Linked DNA regions of Homo sapiens. The protein of the gene in region 2 interacts with the protein of the main gene of each other region in a pairwise test. Each region holds a gene or a part of one and is shown on either strand. Other genes may lie near its edges. The genes, in order: FILIP1L and SMTN.

The links.
Region 1: the proteins of SMTN (region 2) and FILIP1L interact in binary tests that used the Homo sapiens proteins (3 or more experiments, as listed by UniProt).

Annotation. Positions count from the first base shown.
Region 1 is NC_000003.12:99,932,647-99,936,567, reverse strand, and holds part of FILIP1L (filamin A-interacting protein 1-like), read left to right. Parts: intron 1-3,921.
Region 2 is NC_000022.11:31,079,061-31,082,981, forward strand, and holds the start of SMTN (smoothelin), read left to right. Parts: upstream 1-2,257; 5' UTR 2,258-2,396; intron 2,397-3,799; exon of another isoform or gene 3,800-3,855; coding exon of another isoform or gene 3,856-3,921. UniProt on the Homo sapiens protein: Structural protein of the cytoskeleton.

The DNA.
Region 1 (3,921 bases), on a different chromosome or scaffold from region 2:
TCCACCTCTAGTAAAAATACAAAAATTAGCTGGGTGTGGTGGTGCGCGCCTGTAGTCCCAGCTACTTGGGAGGCTGAGGCAGGAGAATTGCTTGAACCCAGGAGGTGGAGGTTGCAGTGAGCCGAGATCGTGCCACTGCACTCTAGCCTGGGCGACAGTGTGAGATGCTGTCACAAAAAAAAAAAAAAAAAAAAAAAAGGCTTCAAGCTTCAGTTCCTTCCTCTGCAAAATAAATGAGTTAATCAAAGGAAGGCATTTAGAATGGGCTTGTATATGATAAGTAATGAATACATGTTAGCTACCATTATTACTATTATTTTCTTTCTCTAAATTGGAGTAGTTTTGCTTGGCTACCTCGATACCATATTAAATGACCAAGACCAAAAATGATTTCTTTTTTGAGGCTTTTCACTTACTTGATACAAGCAAAAATATCCTCTAGTCACATCCACAATTCTAAAACAAAAATGAGTAAGAAAATGAAGACTAAAAAGTATGTCTAAGTAGCACCTAACTATGTAGAGTAATTTTTAATATACAACATTAATAAAGAATGATTTTTAAAATTTAAATTTTATAATAAGTAATTGGCTGAGGGGCTGCTGGAGGAAGGTAATGAGTAGAATAGACTTCTATTTACATTTGGCCATTTCCTGCAAATAAATTAAGTAAATAATTACAAACTCTCTTCTAGTCCTCTTGCATGGACACATCCTTACCAAGATACACCATGATTTCAACTAACTTAAGCCCAAGTAAAACTGACTAAAGGAACTACATAGGAAAACAAAGCAGGATCTACTTCTCACTGCCAACTGCACTGTATTTGTATCCATAGATACAAGACAACAGAGAGTCCCAGAATTCTAAAGCGGGAAATCCCGGGACTTCAAAGATCATCCAGTCTCAGGTCCTAACCCTGCTATCACGGGATCCATCAGGGGGTGAGGAACAGGGTAGAGGTCAAAGGAAACAATCCTTGGTCCTTGTTCCAGCCTGAGTGATCTCATGGGACAACCTATCCCAGTATTCTCATTTTATAAGCAACAACACAGACCCTGGCTAATTAAAGGCAGAGCTGGGATCAGAGGCTGGGTTTCCTGATTCCCAGCCTACACTCCTGAAGGTTATCGTTCTAGGGTTATGACAGTCACAGATAACAACACATTAGGCTGTGTTAAACTGACAACTAAGCAGGTTTTTTTCCCTTGTAAACTCACTAGGTACTAGGTCAGCACTTCATGAAGAGTAAAGTATCATTATTTGGCATACACAAAAAGCAACTTTCCTTTTTTTTTTTTTGGTACCCTGAAAATCCCAAACCACTGTTGCTATTACAAAATTTTTCTTTACCCTAGTATGCACCCCTGGGCCAAGCACAGATGCATTAAAAATTTGCCAAGAGAAACAATGAAGTCACTGATAATACAAAGCATGAGAGTATCATGAAATTCATGTCTTTGTTTTCTTCCTCTAGATACTTAATTATTTCTCATTACTGATCATTTTGTGGTTATTGGCAGAGGGGCAAGGAAACTCCACCACTGTAAACATGTAGAGACACATGCTCCTCAGTAGACCAGAAGTCTGCATATGATGGGTCTGTTCACAAATCCAATGTGAACACCACTTCATTAATCAGTGAGAATGTTGATGCTACTATCCCCAGCCTCCAAAGAGAATTGGTGGTCTCAGTAAAACTCTAATCTCTTTAGAAGAATAACAAACACAGTATAAAAATGTTTCAGGTCATTCCTTTTTTTACCACTTATGAATATCATCACTGGCAAATGATCTATGTTCTCCTACCAGATTTCATCTAACCCACTTTAAGAGTGAGGTGAGGAAGCTAGAATGTATACAGAGCTCCATTCAGTCTTCTGTTGCAGCTCAGGGCTGCCTTAAGCTAAAAGGGCACTACTTATGAACAATGTTTAGCAAATTACCCTGCTAAATAAAAGCTTACATTATCTTGGTATTCTGGAAGGGATATCCTAGATTAAGTTGATGAGGGCAGAGAAATTCTCATTGATTAGCAGCAGGATACAAGTTGATTCTTATCAGTAGACTATTGTTCCACACAGGACTATGTGGGCAAGAGGAAAACATAGGAATTCATCATGTAAAATGAAAAAAACAAAAACCAAACCCTATGTACTTCCAGGAAATGAAAAGAAGTAAAGAACCAAATATATTTCGCTCCTCTTTTAAACTAGACTTTTATTAGATTTTCACAGAAATCTGAATCTGTGGGTGTGGTGAACTTTTTCAAAGATGGCTGCAGTTAATTCCTTCCATTCCTTTGCAATGTGGCCTTGTATCTTCTTCCATGTAGAGGTGTAATCTATTTCCTCAATCTTGAATCTGGGCTGACATTGTGACATTCTTTCACAAATGAGATGTTGGGAGCTTCAACTCTCACGTTCTTGGAATGTTATCCTGAGACCACCATGTGGGGAAGCCTGGTCTAGCTTCTTGTAAGTTGAGAGTCACATACAGCTGAGATGAGATGACCCGGCTGAGGCTCTCCTAGTCCAACTAACCAACAGCCAAATACGTGAGAGCCCGTCTTAGACCATCCAGGCCCAGAATAGCTGTAAGAAAGCTGAAGCTGTGGAGTAACCCACAGAATTCTGAGCCATTGTTATTTAGCCTCCATCCAAGTTTTGGGGTTGTTTGTTAAACACTAACATGTACCTGAGACAGTTGGGCACAAAGTAAAAGGAGCAAGCCAGTCACCCTAATGCATGCCCATTATGTATGGAGCACCAGGTCAGATACGCCATGTGAGACATGAATGAAGAATAAAATTGTCTTAAAAATATAAGACAAAGGACATAGATGGCCCTATAATTAATCTGTGAACATACCTATAAATAAAGCAGAATGTAATATTTACCTATATTAAATATATTTATGTAACAACCTTCCATTATTTCTATAGCCCAGAGTAAGGATATTCCTAGGTGTTCAAGAAAATACAATAGGGGTGGGGAAAGATAATTAGAAATCCTGTTTATGTATAATTTTTCATTTTTGTCTTTTTTGAATGTTTTTTATAAAGCACATAATATACTGTGGTAGTACATGAATATTTTTATAAATAAATAGATATACACACAATGAGGTTTTTCCCAATCTCATCTCTTACACATCCCCAACCTCCCATTCCTACACAAAAATATCCCTTCTATGCCTTTGCTTTTCTCAAATAAATGAGCCTTTCCCTGGCTACCTAGGGAAGAGCCAGTGACAACTACTGTCACACATCATTGTTCATCTATACCGTATTTGTAAATAGTCTCTTCAGTAAGGCTATAGGCATTTTTCGGACAAGGTATTTGTACCAGTGTATATATGCATTTGTCTTAGGCAATACAGCATAATGACATTACGGCATGATTTTTAAGAGTGTGGGTCCCTGAGCCAGGTTTCCTAGACTCAAATCCCAGTTTTGCCACTTATTAGCTGTGCAACCTTCAATAAGTTTCCCGTGCTTCCATTTGTTCACTGTAAAATGGAGATAATAATATTCCCTACCTCATAGTGTTGTTGTGAGACTTGAATGAGCTAATACATGGAAAATGCTGAGAAGAATGCTTAGCACACATAGTAAGTGCTCCCTCACTTCCAGATCAGGTCATTGGACCTGAAGAGGGTGAATGTCCTTTTTGTTTTGAGACAGAGTCTTACTCTGTCACCCAGGCTGGAGTGCCGGGCGCGATCTTGGCTCAATGCAACCTCGGCCTCCTGTGTTGAAGCAATTCCTGGGCTTCAGCCTCCTGAGTAGCTGGGATTACAGGTGTGTGCCACCACACCTGGCTAATTTTTTGTATTTTTAGCAGAGATGGGGTTTCGCCATGTTGGCCAGGCTGGTCTTGAACTCCTGACCTCGGGTAATCCGCCTGCCTCGGCCTCCCA
Region 2 (3,921 bases):
GAGCTTCAGCTTCCTCTGTCGAATCAGAGTGTACCTATCTTGCACAGTGGTCACCTGGCAGTAGTGGGAGCCCCACGTCTGACATGCAACAGGTGTTCAGCAAATGCTGGGGCCCTCGTCACGGGATGTTTACTCTTTCCTCGGCTGTAGCTGTAAACTTCCCTAGCACTGTACCGGACTGCCCTTTGATCTCTAGATCACCCCCACTCCCTTGCAGAGAGGAAGACAGAGGCAGGCGGGTATGTCTGGAGGTGGACCCAGGCACTAAGGGCTTGAAGGGGCAGGACCCACACATCCCTTCCATAGGGCCAAGGGCTAGTGAGCGCATGTGCCAGACAGTAAATCCAAGCATGGAGGAACTCACCTGTACCATTCCTCCTAGCCTACAGTAGGGCAGGGAGAAAGGAGGGCATTAGCACAAAGCAGGCCATTCATTGGAGCTGGTGACCGCCATTCAGGCAGGCCCTGAAAATCAGAGGTGGCCTAGGTGTGCCCTGCATGAAGGGGAGGTCCCAAGGGACGCGTGAATTTTGAAGTATTCAGAATTGGTCTTAGAGGGCGCCTGACCCTCGTTCTGGATAATAACATGGCATCTCGCCCAGGTAGAGAAAGCCTAGGACCTTGAAATATGTCCTCCGAAGTGAGCTCTGTTTGCCTCTCCTGCTGTGTAGCATTGACAAGTCGCTTTCTTCTGTGCCTTGATTTTCTTTTTTCTTTTTTTGAGACAGAATCTTGCTCTGTCGCTTAGGCTGGAGTGCAGTGGCACAATCTCGGCTCACTGCAACCTCTGCCTCCAGGTTCAAGTGATTCTACTGCCTCAGCCTCCCAAGTAGCTGGGATTACAGGTGCATGCCACTTGCCCGACTAATTTTTGTATTTTTAGTAGAGACGGGGTTTTTGCCGTGTTGGCCAGGCTGGTCTCGAACTCCTGACCTTGGGTGATCCACCTGCCTTGGCATCCCAAAGTGCTGGGATTACAGGCATGAGCCACCGCACCTGGCCCGTGCCTTGGTTTTCTGATGTGTAAAATGGGACCACTTCTCAGGGGTGTGGGGATGAAATGAAATGACACATGGAAAAGACTCTCAGTGTGGAGACTGGGCCTTTCCTTAGATGGGGGCTGGGGGGTGTCACAGAGGACCTGAACCGGGGCTCTTCTGGGTTAACAGGCTGAAACCACCTCCCCAGAATCCCACATTATAGTGGTTAAAAGCAGGGTCTGGACTCAGAAGGTGCTGGGTATGAATCACAGCTTTACTACTTATCAGCTGTTGTCCTCATCTGTAAAATGGGGCAATAGTCATGGTCTCATGTGCTTGTTATGGGCATTATATGCCTGGTACATGGCAAGTACAAAATAAATGATTTGTTATTGTTTTTATTTGACAGGACTCCAGACCCCATCCTCCCAACTCCACCCACTTTAGTCTCCATGGAGACCCAAGGGCGGCTTTAGGGCCTCTGGCACTGAAGATGGAATAGCTTTGCCTTGTGGATCTGACCTCCTGGGTACCCTGGCTGATTCCTTGTTTGGTCTTGGACATGTCAGCTCTCTCTGGGCCTCAATTTCCCCCTTTTGCTGAATGACAGCCTGGACTCCATATTCCCTATTTAGGACTCCAGCGCTCCTAAAGGCAGACTCTCAGGGCTTGGAAGGTAGAAGCATGCTACAAGAAGGCAATGTCTGTTCAAAGGTGTGTGGGCTGGGGGAGGCGTGCTGTGTGATTGATTCTGCTCCACCTGAGATGGTCCCGGCACTCCAACACAGGGTCAAGGTGCTGCCAGTCACTCAGTCCCTGCTCTGAGGTGGCTCAGACCAGGTGTCCCGAAAGCAGCCTAGGGACGGCGGCCAAGCTTAAACACTGACGCGAGAAAGGGGTGGAGTCGAGGGAGGGGACGTGGTCTCAGGAACAAAGAGGAGGGCGGAGAGGGGCTGTCCTGAAGGCTCTGAGACTCCTACGACCCCAGGAAACTTACCTCGGCTCGGGGCGCCCCCCCCGACTTGGCGCAGAGCCTGCGTCCCCCTGCCGATGCCCACCCGACTCGCTAAAGCCACCGAGGCAGACGACCCCAAGACTCCCAATTTCCGACCTCCCTGGCCCGCGAGGGGCGGGGCCTTCCTCTCGGGGCGTGGCCGTCAAATTGAATTTTCCCAATGGGGCACGAGAGTGGGAGGTACCCAATCGAGGGTTGGCTGGCGCGTCGGGGCAGGGCGGGGCCAGCCGGGCTGCTGGCGCGGCTGGACGGGCAGCTCTCCGCAGAATCCAGGGGACGGTTGCTGAGCGGGCCTGGGACAGCGGGTCGCGGCACCTCCGGCCTGCGCGTGTCTAATCCGTCTGTCGGGTCCCGAAAGAGCTAAGCCGAGCCTGCGCCGGACGGGTGGGCTGGACTGAGAGGTGGGTGTGCGGACCTCGGGGGGGATCCTGGTGCTGCCCCAACGTGTCCGGGGGTGGAACCCGGATGTCTAGACAGGAGTTCTGGAACGTCCAGACCTGGGAGCCCCCACCCATACGAGAGGTCTAAGCCATGGGATAAAGTTATGAGACTGTTGGGGGAAGACGCCCCCGGATTCCTAAGAGACTCCACGCCCCACAGGGGCGCTAGTCTGTGGCGGCAGAAACCCTGGGGAAGCTGCCACAGAATCCTGAGGCCCCTCACAATGTCCGGCGACCCCAGACTGTGTGACAGGGAGATTGGAGAAGAGCAGCGGCAGGGATCTTCTTATAATCCCATGGGTGTCCTAGATTAGGCATTAGGGTCAGCTGCCCCATAGAAGAACAGACATGGGGGGAATCAGAATGTCCGCAGAACCTAAGGCTGGTGACCACTGGACAGTCTTGAAGAGGTTTAACCCAGACAGAGTAACTAGGTAAGAGGCAAGGATCCTAACAGGCAGAGATTGGGAGGTTGACACCTCTGAGCCTACCAGGATGGGAGGGGGAACAAGCAGTGACTTGAACAGGCTGGGACCCACACACCCCAACTGTGTGGAGCGGTAACCCTCACCCCCCACCCATGCACCGTATGGGGTGACTTCCCAAGTGACTGTTCTGAAGAGAGGGAAGGGATGATTGAAAGATGAATCAACAGGAGGTGGGGGGCAGGCCTGGGGCCACACATTAGTCAGTCACCATACATTAACTAAGCATCCACAGTGTGCCAGACCAGGGCCCCTCAAATTCCAGACAGACATTAGTTGGGGCTACAGGAGGAAGGAGAGATCTGCGCTGGGAGGCTGGGCCAGGATTTAGGGGTCCATTTTGATGGGCAGCACTGGGGCAAGATGGGGCTCTTGCCTCTGTCACTGAGAGTGTTCCAGGCCCTTGAGGGCACTTTGGAAGGGAGCTTCGGAAGCCGGAGATGACGAAGATTTTGATTACATCCTTCTCTGCCCTCTAAGTCTTTGGCTTCCTCCTTGCTCAGTGACAAATCCTTGGCCCTCTCCAATCTTCTCAGTTTGCCTGAAATCCAGGGGTTGGGCAGGTCAGCTTCTGAAAGCCCTTCCAGGTGGGGAATTGAATTCTGTATGAATTGGCAGGAGGTGCTGGGTGCCTGGACACCTGGCTTCAGGAGGTCTGGACAGCAGAGCTGGCTCCAAGAATCGGAAGACACAGTGTACCTTCCTATACCTGGGGGAATGACAGTGGTGGTGGCAGCAAGAACTACGGGTTCAGCCCACAGCCAGAAGCTGAGCCTGCGGAGTGGGTGGGGGCTGGGTAGGCCCTGTGGATGGGTGGGTGGGGCAGGAAACTGGAGACTGGAGTGCACCCCCTGGTGGTAAGCACAGCTTGGGTGGGTCTTGCCAGGCCCTGGCTTCTCAATCCAGGTCCCTGCCCTCCCTGTTTTGAGGTTTAGACAGGATGAGAGTCCATCCCAGGCCACACAGCAGACTGGCGGCCAAGCTGGCAGGGCTGGAACCAG